4 separate regions of the Homo sapiens genome follow, and regions 2, 3 and 4 are each reported to be linked to region 1. The links are microRNA targets in miRTarBase. Many come from high-throughput screens and were not tested one by one. Region 1 holds a microRNA gene; each other region holds the end of a gene's coding sequence.

What was found. The annotated mature microRNA hsa-miR-3646 reads AAAAUGAAAUGAGCCCAGCCCA and lies in region 1 at 1,691-1,712, shown strand. An mRNA with a match to its seed (bases 2 to 7 or 8) in the 3' UTR can be bound and repressed. Matches are read on the target gene's strand: a 7mer-m8 pairs with bases 2 to 8, a 7mer-A1 pairs with bases 2 to 7 and ends in A, and an 8mer does both.
Region 2: the mRNA of TRIM72 is a reported target of hsa-miR-3646. The part of its 3' UTR that is shown has no 7-base or 8-base seed match.
Region 3: the mRNA of MON2 is a reported target of hsa-miR-3646. Seed matches in the 3' UTR shown: 7mer-m8 at 1,581-1,587 and 7mer-m8 at 2,936-2,942.
Region 4: miRTarBase lists SMIM19 as a target of hsa-miR-3646. Seed matches in the 3' UTR shown: 7mer-m8 at 1,153-1,159 and 7mer-m8 at 1,829-1,835.

The regions. Positions count from the first base shown.
Region 1 is chr20:44,406,487-44,409,641 of GRCh38, forward strand. It overlaps MIR3646 (microRNA 3646), which reads left to right and starts at 1,634; the gene lies at 1,634-1,717. It overlaps HNF4A (hepatocyte nuclear factor 4 alpha), which reads left to right. Exons shown (of 10, transcript NM_175914.5): 3 at 895-989.
Region 2 is chr16:31,224,253-31,227,252 of GRCh38, reverse strand. It overlaps TRIM72 (tripartite motif containing 72), which reads right to left. Exons shown (of 7, transcript NM_001008274.4): 7 at 1-3,000. The coding sequence ends at 2,498. Among named protein-coding and RNA genes, the nearest start is that of PYDC1, 8.6 kb to the right of the region's middle.
Region 3 is chr12:62,592,221-62,595,375 of GRCh38, forward strand. MON2 (MON2 regulator of endosome-to-Golgi trafficking) reads left to right here. Exons shown (of 35, transcript NM_015026.3): 35 at 366-3,155. The coding sequence ends at 529. Among named protein-coding and RNA genes, the nearest start is that of MIRLET7IHG, 8.9 kb to the right of the region's middle.
Region 4 is chr8:42,552,191-42,555,345 of GRCh38, forward strand. SMIM19 (small integral membrane protein 19) reads left to right here. Exons shown (of 4, transcript NM_001135674.2): 4 at 354-3,005. The coding sequence ends at 418. Among named protein-coding and RNA genes, the nearest start is that of SMIM19, 12 kb to the left of the region's middle. RefSeq lists an enhancer at 2,181-2,702.

The DNA of each region.
Region 1 (3,155 bases):
TGTGTATTTACCCATCCCCTTGAGCCCATTGTTGTTTTTCCCATTCCATGGGGCCTCTCCTGAAGCCTCAGTAGATGAGCCCGTCTTCCAGTCTGGTGCTGTTTTTGGGACAAATAGGAGATTGACCCCAGGCCGTTCCACCTACCCCAGGGGCTTCCACCAACCCCAAAGTCTTCCCAAGGCCTTGGAGAGCCCTCTTTCGAAAGCATCTCCTGTTCTGGGTAATGACAATAATAAAATCATAGCAGCTGTCAATTGCGAGCACTTGTCATGTACAAAGACTGTGCCCCATCGGCGCATGACTTCATTTCACCTGTCAACACCCCTGTGAGATGGTTACTGTTGTTATTCCCATTTTATAGAGGAGGAAGCTGTGGCTTGGAGGGCTAGGCATTTGCCCAAGGTCAACCAGCTTGAATCACTGGCAGAGCCAGGGTTAACATTCAGGGCCCCACCCATCACCACGGTGTGGCACTGCCTCTACTTCCTATCCCCCTCCAGAGAGAGGCTTATGTGAACCGAGTATTAACTCTGAGCCATAACCAGGAGCCTGCTATGGGTTCTGAGCTTTTATAGGATGTGGTGGAAATAGCAGGGCTCTGGTACTCCAGAGGTCAAGGTTCCCAACTCAGCTCTAACACCAACCAGCAGAGCGACCCAGGACCACATGTTGCCTCTCTGAGCCTCAGTTTTCCCATGTTTAGCAGGACAGGACTGGGCTCTTAGAGAGTTCATAGCACCTTTCCAGCTCCTGGTGGGTTCAAGAGAGAACTCCCGGGATGAAGAGATGAGAGCACTGAGGTTGGGGGGTCAACTGGATAGCCAGGGCCCTAGTTCTGTCCTAAGAGGAGGAAGTTGTGTCTTCTCCATCCAACCATCCAAAGCCCTCCCCAGATTTAGCCGGCAGTGCGTGGTGGACAAAGACAAGAGGAACCAGTGCCGCTACTGCAGGCTCAAGAAATGCTTCCGGGCTGGCATGAAGAAGGAAGGTGAGCCTCGGCCCTCCCCGCCCCACCACCACTGCCCCACCTGCACCCACAGCTCCCCGACAGTCATTTACAACTGTAGCCACACTTTATGACTCAGTGGCAGGCCCCAGGGTGACTGGCTAATGGCTGAGAAGAGGGAGGGCCTGGAAATCTGACCATAGGGAGCGGCTGGGCTTGGTCTTGAGAAAGATTCAGAGAGATAAGCTCCCACTCTTGGCTCCTCAGGCTCCCAGCAACCACCACCCCTGCCTGCCTGTCTGCGCCACCACAAAGCAGCCACGTTGTGTGTGTGTGTGTGTGTGTGTGTGTGTGTGTGTTTAATATAATATTTCGAACGTTAGGACAAGCATAGAGAATGATATTGCAAACATCTGAGTACTCACTATCCCAACTTTACAAAAGGGACAGCCAGAGGAGCCCGATGCCTGAGCTTCCGGTCCCAGGGACAAATGCCCCAGTTCCCTTAGTATTCATTCGTGGGTATCACGTGATCTCCAAAGTCTTCACATTCTAGAAAATGGGAACAAGACCCCAGACCCATCCTGGACAAAGGAGGAGAAGACCAGAGCACAACATTTATTAAGGTCTTGCCAGGCTTCCTGCTACCAGCAGGTATCAGTCACTGGGCTGTGCTTTTTCCACACTTCAGTAGGTTGGGTTCATTTCATTTTCATGACAACCCTATATGGGAAAATGTTGTGAAAATGAAATGAGCCCAGCCCATTGAACCTATTACAATTCCTCCCTTTTTGTGGATGAAGGAACTGAGGCCCACAATGGTTAAGCAACTTGCCTAGGGCCCCACAACTGATCCTTGGAAGATCTGAAGTCCCAGAGCTTCTGCTATTTGGACCACACTTCAGCACTGTCTATTATTTTATGCTCTCCAGATACCAGGGACATTTAAAATTGTTTTCAGCCCAAGCAAGGGAAGCAAAAATCTTTTAACTGCTTTAAAGTAACTTGAGGCCAGGCGCAGTGAATCAGGCCTGTAATCCCAGCACTTTGGGAGGCCGAGGCAGGCAAATCATTTGAGGTCAAGAGTTCGAGACCATCCTGACCAACATGGTAAAACCCCGTCTCTACTAAAAATACAAAAAAATTAGCTGGGCGTGGTGGTGCATGCCTGTAGTCCTAGCTACTCGGAAGGCTGAGGCAGGAGAATTGCTTGAACCCAAGAGGAGGCGGTTGCAGTGAGCTGAGATCATGCCACTGCACTCCAGACTGGGCAAGACAGCGAGACTCTCTCAAAAAAAATAAAAAAGTAACGAGTTCATTTTCGAATCTCTTCATTTCCTGCTCCTCTAAACTCAACCTTTCCCAGCTCTGCGACTAGTCCCAGACCTTCCCTTCTAGCCCACAGTTGTGCCGTACCAGCCAAACCTTGGTCTAGTCCTGCTAGTTCGGTACAAACACCCCTCACCCCCATCACCCCAGCACACCCCAGAAGCAGGAACGTAGGACCCAGCTTGCTCCAGGGCCCACTGAGAAGGAGGGGAGGGGAGGCTTTGGTAGACTCTCTTTCCCCTGTATCTGCTCCTGGCCCCCTGTTTTCTCTGCCCCCTCCCTTGGAAATATCTTCTATGTCTCATCCTTATGGGACCTTAGTCTGGGCTCATGAGCTGTCTTGGAAAATCTGGGCTTGCTGATCCCGATGCAGGAGTGGGTGGTCCCCAAGGCCTGCTCTGAACGCTGCAATTCTAACATCTAGATATCAGTGGTTCTCCAAGGGCAAGAGGGGCTTTTTAAGCTGCAAATACTCCCTCCTCTCCCAAACCCAGTTTTCAATGGGGTTAAGCCTGTCTCATCCACTTCAACTTCCATTTTGTGGACTGGGAAAGATTATGAATGGGAACCTGATGCATGTGTGAACAGTTGGAGGCAAGAAAAAGATTGAGAACTACAGTCTAAGGTTCCAACATTTCTGTGGTTGTATTAGTCAGTGATTCCATTATCCCAAAAGCCTAAGATTTTAGGCACTATGATTCCTCATAGGTGTCATCCAGAGGGCACTGTGTTTGAGAGAACAGCTCTCTCACAGTGAAAGTTCAGGTCTGTGACAGGCAGATGGGAGAGGGGTTGGCAGCCCTCCTGAGTGGATGGCTACCCACCTCCACTGCGTGTGGCCTGGTCCTGCGTGTGGTCAGTTGTTATAAATGTCTTTTA
Region 2 (3,000 bases), not on the chromosome of region 1:
ACATTACCAAGTCAGGATTAAAGGCTGGAGGGCAATTAGGAGGCCTTGCAGTAGGTCACATGTCTTTTCATGTGGATTTAATGAGGAAGGAGTCAGAATATAACAGTTTTATTAATGGTGTTGGATTTTACAACCAAATAATCCCTTAGCTATATTGTTTTATTTTCTAACATGAAAGAGCTTCTACCGTTAATCCTCTCTTCTGTCTCCTGAAGCCAGGGCTCCACAGGCCTTCCTCTGGGAGACACACCCAGGTGTGCCGCCTTCCCCTGCCAGATCCTCAGGCCTTTCTTACCCAACTCACAACTTCCCTTTCACCCTTAGTCCCATACCCACCATCTCCCGAGAAAACCTCCGCAATGGGCTGCCGGGGCCCCAGGCCCTTCCACCCATCCCGCCAGCACACCCTCCCCGTGAAAATGAGTGACCCCAGGCCAGCGTCTTCCCTCAGGAGAGAAGCCTGTCTGGATCCCCAAAGGCCTCTCCCTCCAGGGAAGAGGGACTCTCACTCTGGCCTCAGTGGTTACTCCAGAGCCCAAGAAATGCCCTGTGCGCTAAAACCAAAGAAGGTGTGAACCAGCAAGTAAGTGGGGAGCGGCCAGTTCTGGGACATCTAGTTGGGGGCCTTCTCTTCCCCATGAGCAGCAGGGACCAGTGTGACCTTGGCATCAGGCTCTTTCTCTTGGCTGGCTTCCTCAACGTTCAAGACGCTCGATAAACATATCCCAGAGGCAAAGCAAGTTAAGTCGAGGGTTGTTTATTCACCTAGAATCAGCTCCAGCCATTTTCCAATGTCTTCTTTTTGTTGTTTTTCTGGTTTTTGTTGCAACAGGGTCTCACTATGTTCCCCAGGCTGGTCTCAAACTCCTGGCCTCAAATGAGCCTCCTGCCTCAAACTCCCAAAGTGTTGGGTTTACAGGCATGAGTACCCAGCCCTTAAGTGTCTTTGCTTTGGTTTATGTTTGTTTGTTTCCTTCCACTCCTGGTGCAAACCTTACATGTTTTTGACTGGGGAAACATATTTTGGACCTATGCCTCTACACTGACAGTGAAGAGCCCAATGGGTTGTGCACTAGGTCAGGGCTTCCCGCAGCGTCAGCCCCTGTGGCCAGCAGCGTCACCTGGGAACCTGCTAGAAATGCACATTTTTGGCAGGGCGTGGTGGCTCACACCTGTAATCCCAGCACTTGGAAGGCCAAGGCAGGAGGATCACCTGAGGCCAAGAGTTCAAGATCAGCCTGGGCAATGTAACGAGACACCATTTCTACAAAAACTAAATTAAAAAAAAAAAAATGAGCATTTTCAGCCAGGTGCAGTGGCTCATGTCTGTAATCCCAGCACTATGGGAGGCCAAGGCGGGTGAATCACTTGAGGTCAGGAGTTCGAGACCAGCTTGGCCAACATAGTGAAACCCCTACTAAAAATAAAAATAAATAGCCAGGTGTGGTGGCGGGCGTCTGTAGTCCCAGCTACTTGGGAGGCTGAGGCATGAGAATTGCTTGAACCCTGGAGGCAGAGGTTGCAGTGAGCCGAGATGGCACCACTGCACTCTAGCCTTGAGTGACAGAGCAAGACTCTGTCTCAAAAAAAAAAAAAAAAAAAAAAAAAAGAAATAAAAAAAAGAAATGAGCATTTTTGACCTGTCCAACCTACTAAATCAGAAACTTAGCACCCTATGCTTTAACAAGTCATGGCTAAGGGCTTTAAAAAGGTGATTTTAATGCATGCCTAAGGTGGAGAACTAAGGAGAAGGCTTTTGGGTAAGGTGAATCTGGAGCGGGGGACCCAAGGCCTAAGGAGGAGGGGAGTGTGAGGCAAAAGGAGCCCCTTATCTACAGGTTCTCAAGCTCCTCCCATCAATCCCCCAACCTGGCCCTGTCCCTCCCTCGCTCAACCTTAGTTTCTTCCTGGAATTCTCAGGCCTCCTGGTTCCCAAATTCTGATTTCCCCACTGACCTGACTCCAGATCTCCCTACCCCACTGGGTCTTGTCCCCAGCGTCACTCCAACCCCTCACCAGCAGTCCCCAGGCCATGCCAACCCCCACACTTTTTTTTTTTTTTGAGACAGAGTCTCACTCTTGTCACCCAGGCTAGAGTGCAGTGCCGCAATGTCTGCTCACTGCAACCTCCACCTCCTGGGTTCAAGCAATTATCCTGCCTCAGCCTCCCAACTAGCTGGGATTACAGGCGTATGCCACCGCGCCCAGCTCATTTTTGTATTTTCAGTAGAGAGGAGTTTCACCATGTTGGCCAGGCTGGTCTTGAACTCCTGACCTCAGGTGATCCACCCGCCTCCGTCTCCCAAAGTGCTGGGATTACAGGCATGAGCCACCAAGCCAGTCCTACCCCACGCTTGTCAGTATTCTGGGAGATCCCCCAGTTCCCAGCCCCCTGGGCCCTGGCAACCCGCTCCCCACCCTTCTCCCGTCAGACCCGACCAAGGAGACCTAAGCTTCAACCCAGGCCCCCGCGCCCCTCCACTACCCGTCCGGCGGCTCAGGCCTCGGCGCCTTCGGGACCCACGAGCAGCAGCGGCTGGGCATTCTTGCCCTTGTCGTGCCAGCACACGTCGAAGAAGGGGTACACGGGCCTGGGCAGGCGCTCGTGGAAGGCAAAAAGCGGCACGAGCGCGTCGGCGTCGCTGGCATCGTAGAAGGAGAGGACGCCGTCGCCGAAGCTCAGGTAAAGGCCAATGCGCGTGGGCCGCCTCTCGGGGCTGCGCAGAGCGCGCGGCTCCTTGGCCTCCACGTGTGCCTCCAGGATCTTGCCCTCGCGCAGCCCCAGCAGCCACAGGCCCTGCGAGGGCACCGCGTGCAGGCGCCCGCGGCGGGGGGCCTCGGCCGCGATCACGCCCAGCGCCCAGCGCGGCTTGTCGCCAACATCCACCTCCCAGTAGTGCTCGCCCTCGGAGAGCTGCTGGTGCGCCACCACCGCCACCGCCTTGTCGAACTGGCGCGGGTCCTCCCCGGCCGGCGGCGCCTTCTGCTCCGAGCACTCCA
Region 3 (3,155 bases), not on the chromosome of region 1:
TTTTCTAATTCTTGAAATGTACACTACATCCTCTCGCAATTATATTAAAAATGACAAAGGTTTGGATTGTTCTGAATTGCTTTGTTAGCTTTCAGAGCCTTCACAAATTGAAATACCATTTAAAATGTACTTTATCAAATTTATTGTTACTGATGACTGCACACTGAGCATATATTTTTTCCCATACCTTATTAAATATAGCAGGAAATCTTTGAAAAATTAAAAAGATAAAAAGATACAAGCTTGTAGAATCTTCATGTTTCAGAGTTTTTTCTTTACATGCAGTTTAAAGGATTGTGTTCATGTTAATTGAATAATCTCTATTTAATTCCACCCTTTTGAGGTTTTATACTTTTGCATTACAGTTGATGGAAATACCTGGGCACAAGTAATTGCCTTATACCCAACTTTAGTAGAATGCATCACCTGTTCTTCTTCAGAAGTCTGTTCTGCACTTAAAGAGGCACTAGTTCCTTTTAAGGATTTCATGCAGCCACCAGCATCCAGAGTTCAAAATGGAGAATCTTGACCGGCTACAATATATTTGAAAGCAGGAAGATAGTCTAAAAAATGTTTGCTCCTAATTGAGTCTTCTGTGAGAAGGACATTTCTTACTGCAGATAATTCTTGGCAGCTGTTGTTGGCCTCCTTTAAATTCTACTTACCTGAGTTCAGTAATTCATATTACAGGCTTGCACATCAACAAAGGCTCCTGAATGAACAGCAGTGTAAGGCTTTAATAAATTAAACTGATGGGAGGGATAATTAACACTACAGTATACATGCTACCATATCTCCAGTTGGTGATTTAAAGTGAGCTTATGTACAGTTTGTGGTGTATGTGTTAATGATGTACTTTTTAAAAAGAAAGAAGAGATATTTCAATTCAGTCAGATTTATTAGTCTGGTGTTTTTGCACCCTTTTTCAAGTACAAAATCGTACTAGAATTTTATGCAAGATGGTACTGTAACATTCCATATTATCTATAACCAGCCTTTGTTAACAAAGGGAACTGATATACTTGTGTGTATAATAAATGGTACAGTTCTGTATAAAATAGTGCATTTATTTAAATTTTAAAAGTATTGATAATGTTAAATGCTTAAAGCTCTATTTATTATTAATACAAAATTGTTTGCTTACATTTTTACTTATAATTTGCCTTCATATGTGGCGGATAAGCTCACCATATGATCATGCAGTTAGCTTCATGCTTATTTTAAATGTATTATTAGTGACCATTAAACATCTGACCAGTAAGGTCATGTGAACACAGCAGCAAATAGTTTATGATTTGCTGATTTTGGAGCTTTGAAATATAGGTTCTTAATACATTGATACATATTGTAGCACTATGACTTCATCATACCTCATTTCTTTAAACAGCTCTCCAAGCTTTCACTGAAGTCTGTCTGTTTTTTATATTGGCTGTCTGGATTTTAAAGACTTTTCATATTTTATATTTCTACTGATTTTGTTTCCCCTAACAACATTTGTCACTGTCTTTGAATTATGACCCAGGCAAGATGATTTCAGATTTTCTAAAATCTTGCCTGTGAGGTTTTGTTCATATCAGTGCTTCATTTTGTAATGTCTTCTCAAGAAAAATACCTATGTTAACTCACAAGTATAAAATATGTGTGTATTATAAAACAATGAAAAGTGTATTTTTGGAGATAGTCAAGCATTTAGAAGTGCAGTGAACTTGCTGTCACGGAGTAAAATGCTAATTATGTTTCACTTTCCTAGCCTAGTGAAAAAGAAAAGTGCTCTTGAGTACAATACCTTAATTATTTCTTAAAATACTGACTTTGACCTAGCTCACTGTATTTTTTATTTAATGGATTATGGATTACAGTATTTTTCTTCTGAGTTAAATTTTCATAATTTATGTGAAGACACAAAGATGTTTAAAACAATGATTATTCATAAGAAATCATGATGGTCTCAGTATTATTTTAGTGTATTGGAAGGTCTTTGATCTTAATAGAATTTATAAATTTCAGCTTCTCCAGAATAATCATAAAACTGCAAAAAGATATTATAATTGAGTCATGATTGAGATACAGTTTTGAGGCTATTATAATTGTATAATTATTTAATTTGCATTATCTGTAAAATGTAGTAAGGTCTTTGAGGGGATATTTTTTATTTACATGAATTACTGAATTTCTATTTTATTATTTCACCTAAAATTAAGGTAAAATATGGCATTTCATAAGTTCTGCTTTCAGCATTTTCCTTAAAGTTGTAAAAAATCAAGCTATGTACTTATTTTCTATATTTGGGTGTGTTAAATTGAGGATTAGAAAAATCCACATAATCACTGATAAAGCATTGAAACAGAATAACCCAAGGGTAGTGTACCGATTCAGTAACATGTTAAAAATATTGCTATGCATTTATTCAAAGGAAAATGGTCTGTTCTTGAGAAATAAAAGATCAGTTGCAATTAGGATAATTAAATAGTTAAATATGAGTCAAGTGTATGCAATATACATTTATATGAACCAAAGCTTGCTTTATCAGGACCATGCCCTACAGTTCAAAACATAAACATAGTGAATGTGTTAATATCATATAATAAGGTAATAAATGCCAGTCTTAGTGTGAAGCAAGTGGGTGGCCCCCTTGGTAGTATAATTGGACAGGATTTTCCTCCAGAATATTTCCTGTCACCCTCCAAGAGTCACTACAGTAATTGATTGCTGGCATGGAACACATTGCCCTTGTCTTGTTAGTATGAATTGGGTTCTCCAGTGACTAGAAGAACTGGGGTGTGTGAAAGTATTCGATGCCAGGAGATTCAAAAAGGAAGCTCTCAAAGATAAGATCATTTTATGGCACAATTGAGTCTATAACCAGCCCTTTAAGCAGTAGTAAAAATGTCCTTTGTCATACTTACTAGAAATACTATGAGTTTTTTTTTTTTTTTTCATTTGAGACGGAGTCTCGCTCTGTCACCCAGGCTGGAATGCAGTGGCACGATCTTGGCTCACTGCAACCTCTGCTTCCCGGGTTCAAGCAGTTTCCTGCTTCAGACTTCCAAGTAGCTGGGATTACAGACATGCCACCATGCCAGGCTAATTTTTTTAATATTTTTAGTAGAGATGGGGTTTCACCATTTTGGCCATTCTAGTCTTGAACTCCTGAC
Region 4 (3,155 bases), not on the chromosome of region 1:
AGAGGATCACTTGAGGCCAGGAGTTCAAGACCAGCCTGGGCAACATGGCGAGACCCTATCTCTGCAAAAAATAAAAAATTAGCCGGGTGTGGTGGTGTCTGTCTGTGGTCTCAGCTACCTGGGAAGCTGAGGTGGGAGGATTGCTTGAGCACAAGAGGTTGAAGCTGCAGTGAGCTGTGATTGTGCCACTGCACTGCAGCCTGGGTATCAGAGGGAGACTCTATCTCTGAAACAAACAGACAAAAACTAATTCTTCATTGAGAATCATGACTTGACTGTAATGTAATATTGTTAAGTAGTAATCATTTTGCAGTTTTATTAATTTTATCTCTTCTTTTTCTTGTTGTGAATAGCAAGAAAGTACGACTATCAGCAGCCACAAAACCAAGCTGACAGTGTGCAACTCTCATTGGAATGAAACCTCAGAAAAAGAGCAACAGAAGTAATTGTTTCAAGCTCCTGATTCTTTCTACTAAATCATGAACAGCTTTAAAAACATTTCTGTCTGCATAAAATTATTTTACTTGTAACTTTTCCCCAATTGTTCTGTGCATTGTTTTGCCTTTTTAAATTACATCTCCAAGTGGCTCAAAAGGCCTTGACACAGGGAACCTGCACATATCCAGGATATGTGTAACCAGCGATGGTGACTTGACCTTGCCAAGACCTGTGATTCCTTCAGGATACAATCAGTGAGAAATAAAAACACATCTTGGGAAGTGGGAATCCTGGAGTTTATGCCATTTGCAATATTAAAAAATAAAAATGCAAGTTATTATTTCAATAATAACTTCCTGTTTCATTGTATTCTGTGAGTGATAAGTGTCAGATCAATAACAGATTAATTTGTTGTTAACAGCTCTTTTTTTTTTTTTTTTTTTGAGACAGAGTCTGTTGCCCAGACTGGAGTGCAGTGGCACAATCTCTGCTCACTGCAACTTCCACCTCCCGGGTTTAAACGATTCTCCTGCCACAGCCTCCTGAATATTCTGTTAACAGCTCTTTAATTAATGATCTTTGCTTCTTCAGAACTTGTATGGTAGACCGTCTTTTCTACAGCATGATGCATACTCCTGTGCTAATTTTAGAAGCTTTCTGTAACTAGATTTTTCCTCATTATGCTCCCAGGAGCGAGTTTGTTTTTATCCCCGTTTCATTTCTACCAGGTAGCTCTACTTTAGGCCATACTGGGGACCTGCTGTTGAATAAATGGATGCCTGTGTATTGGTGTTGGCAACTCTGCGGTAGTAGTGCTACCACTGGCGAGGCAGTATTACTGCCACTGGTGAATGTTGCTGTCTGGTTACTGCTGCATTTTTGGCATGCTAAGCTTTCCTAAAGAGCCTCATATCTTTTCCCATGCTGTACTGTACAATGAAATGTTTTTACCTAATTTTTCATGTTTATTTAAATAAAAGCTGACTGGGTAATAGTGGGGAAGTTTAATTGTCCACATAAGTCAAAAGAATCCGTTTTTGAACTAGAGCTATTTTCAATTATAAGAGTGAGCTGGCTGGGCACGGTGGCTCACGCCTGAAATCCCAGCACTTTGGGAGGCCAAGGTGGGAGGATCACGAGGTCAGGAGTTTGAGACCAGCCTGGCCAACGTGGTTAAACCCAATCTCTACGAAGAATACAAAAATTCGCTGGGTGTGGTGGCATGCGCCTGTAATCCCAGCTACTCAGGAGGCTGAGGCAGGAGAATTGCTCGAATCTGAGAGGTGGAGGTTGCAATGAGCCAAGATCACACCACTGCATTCCAGCCTAGGCGACAGAGCAAGACTTCGTCTCAGAAAAAAAAAAAAAAGTTAATAATGGCTTCAAGTATTTCATTTTCCCCTTATTGTGAAATAAACTATATACATTTTAAATGGAAATTAAGGTTTAGACCAAATAAAATCATTCAGGGAAATTGCATTTACTTTTAAAAATGTGTTGTTCAAAAATGTATATATAGTACAAAGTGAATTGACCAAACAGAATAATTCTTAACTCACAAAGGAGTTTGAGCGCACTTCCTACATGTTGAATTTAAATCTGACTAAAGGATTGTAAACAGTTGTAATTATGGGTTGTAGTAACAGAGCAACAAGGGGACAATCTTCTAAACTTGCCTTTGCCTAGGAGAGCTACTGTATATTTCCACAAGTGAATTTAATCAGCAGTAGGAGTGGTTTACTCGTCACTGACATGTGGCACAATCTGGACAAATTACACAAACTGGCTATCTCAGATGTGTAAAATTAATGTACATAAATAAACGTAAGTCACACAATGAATTTCCTTTGTGTCCACTAGATAGAGATGGTCCTAACTACAAACTAGTAGATTATTTGATGAGCATCAAGCCCTGGCAAGTGACAGGAGATGAATTCCTCTCCGTTTTTTCCTTAAAGCAAACTGATGGGAATTGCACACACCCCACTGGCAGGAACAACAGCAAGCCGGCTTTGAAGTCTCTTCCCTGCTTCAACAGCTGAATTGGGGAGAGCGCAAGCCCTGCAGCCACACTTCAAAGCGGCGCTGACTGGCTGTCCTGCTTCTACCCAACATCCACCTGAGACTCAACAGAACTGTTTTCTTTGGAAGAAAAATGGAACTACTAATAAGCTAGTAATTAACCCTTGTATTCTTTTTCTGGTTTCATCTTCCTGTTTTAATGTGTAAGATATTCAGCAGTAAGCACTGGTCAGCCTGCCCTGGTGCACAGCTTGAGTGTGTTAAATAACTGGCTGTTTAGCTGATGCCAGCCAGCTGCGTGAAGGGGAGAAGGCCGCCTCCAAGGACACAGATGTTTGCTGTTGACCTCACGCTGTGTCTGGTTGAGTTATTCATGATTCATCAGAAAATGACATGCAAGGTTTATGGTAAAACTGCTGTACAATCAGAAGTATTTTAAGTATGCATTAGAAGTAAGATAAAATAGTAATAAAAATAGTTTCAGATGTTAAGATGATACAAGAATAAATTTAACCTAGAAAATAAAGGGAGAAGGAATAAAAGAACGTGGTATAGAGCCAAGTAATTCATTCAGTGGTTGGTTCTGGAGTGTTTCCCCTGTGCTTGCTGTATGTGATCCTCTTTCATAGGCTATTCTAATAGCGGAACTAGAATAAGAGGTGCCAGAAAACCAACGGAAATAGGAAGGGCACTGA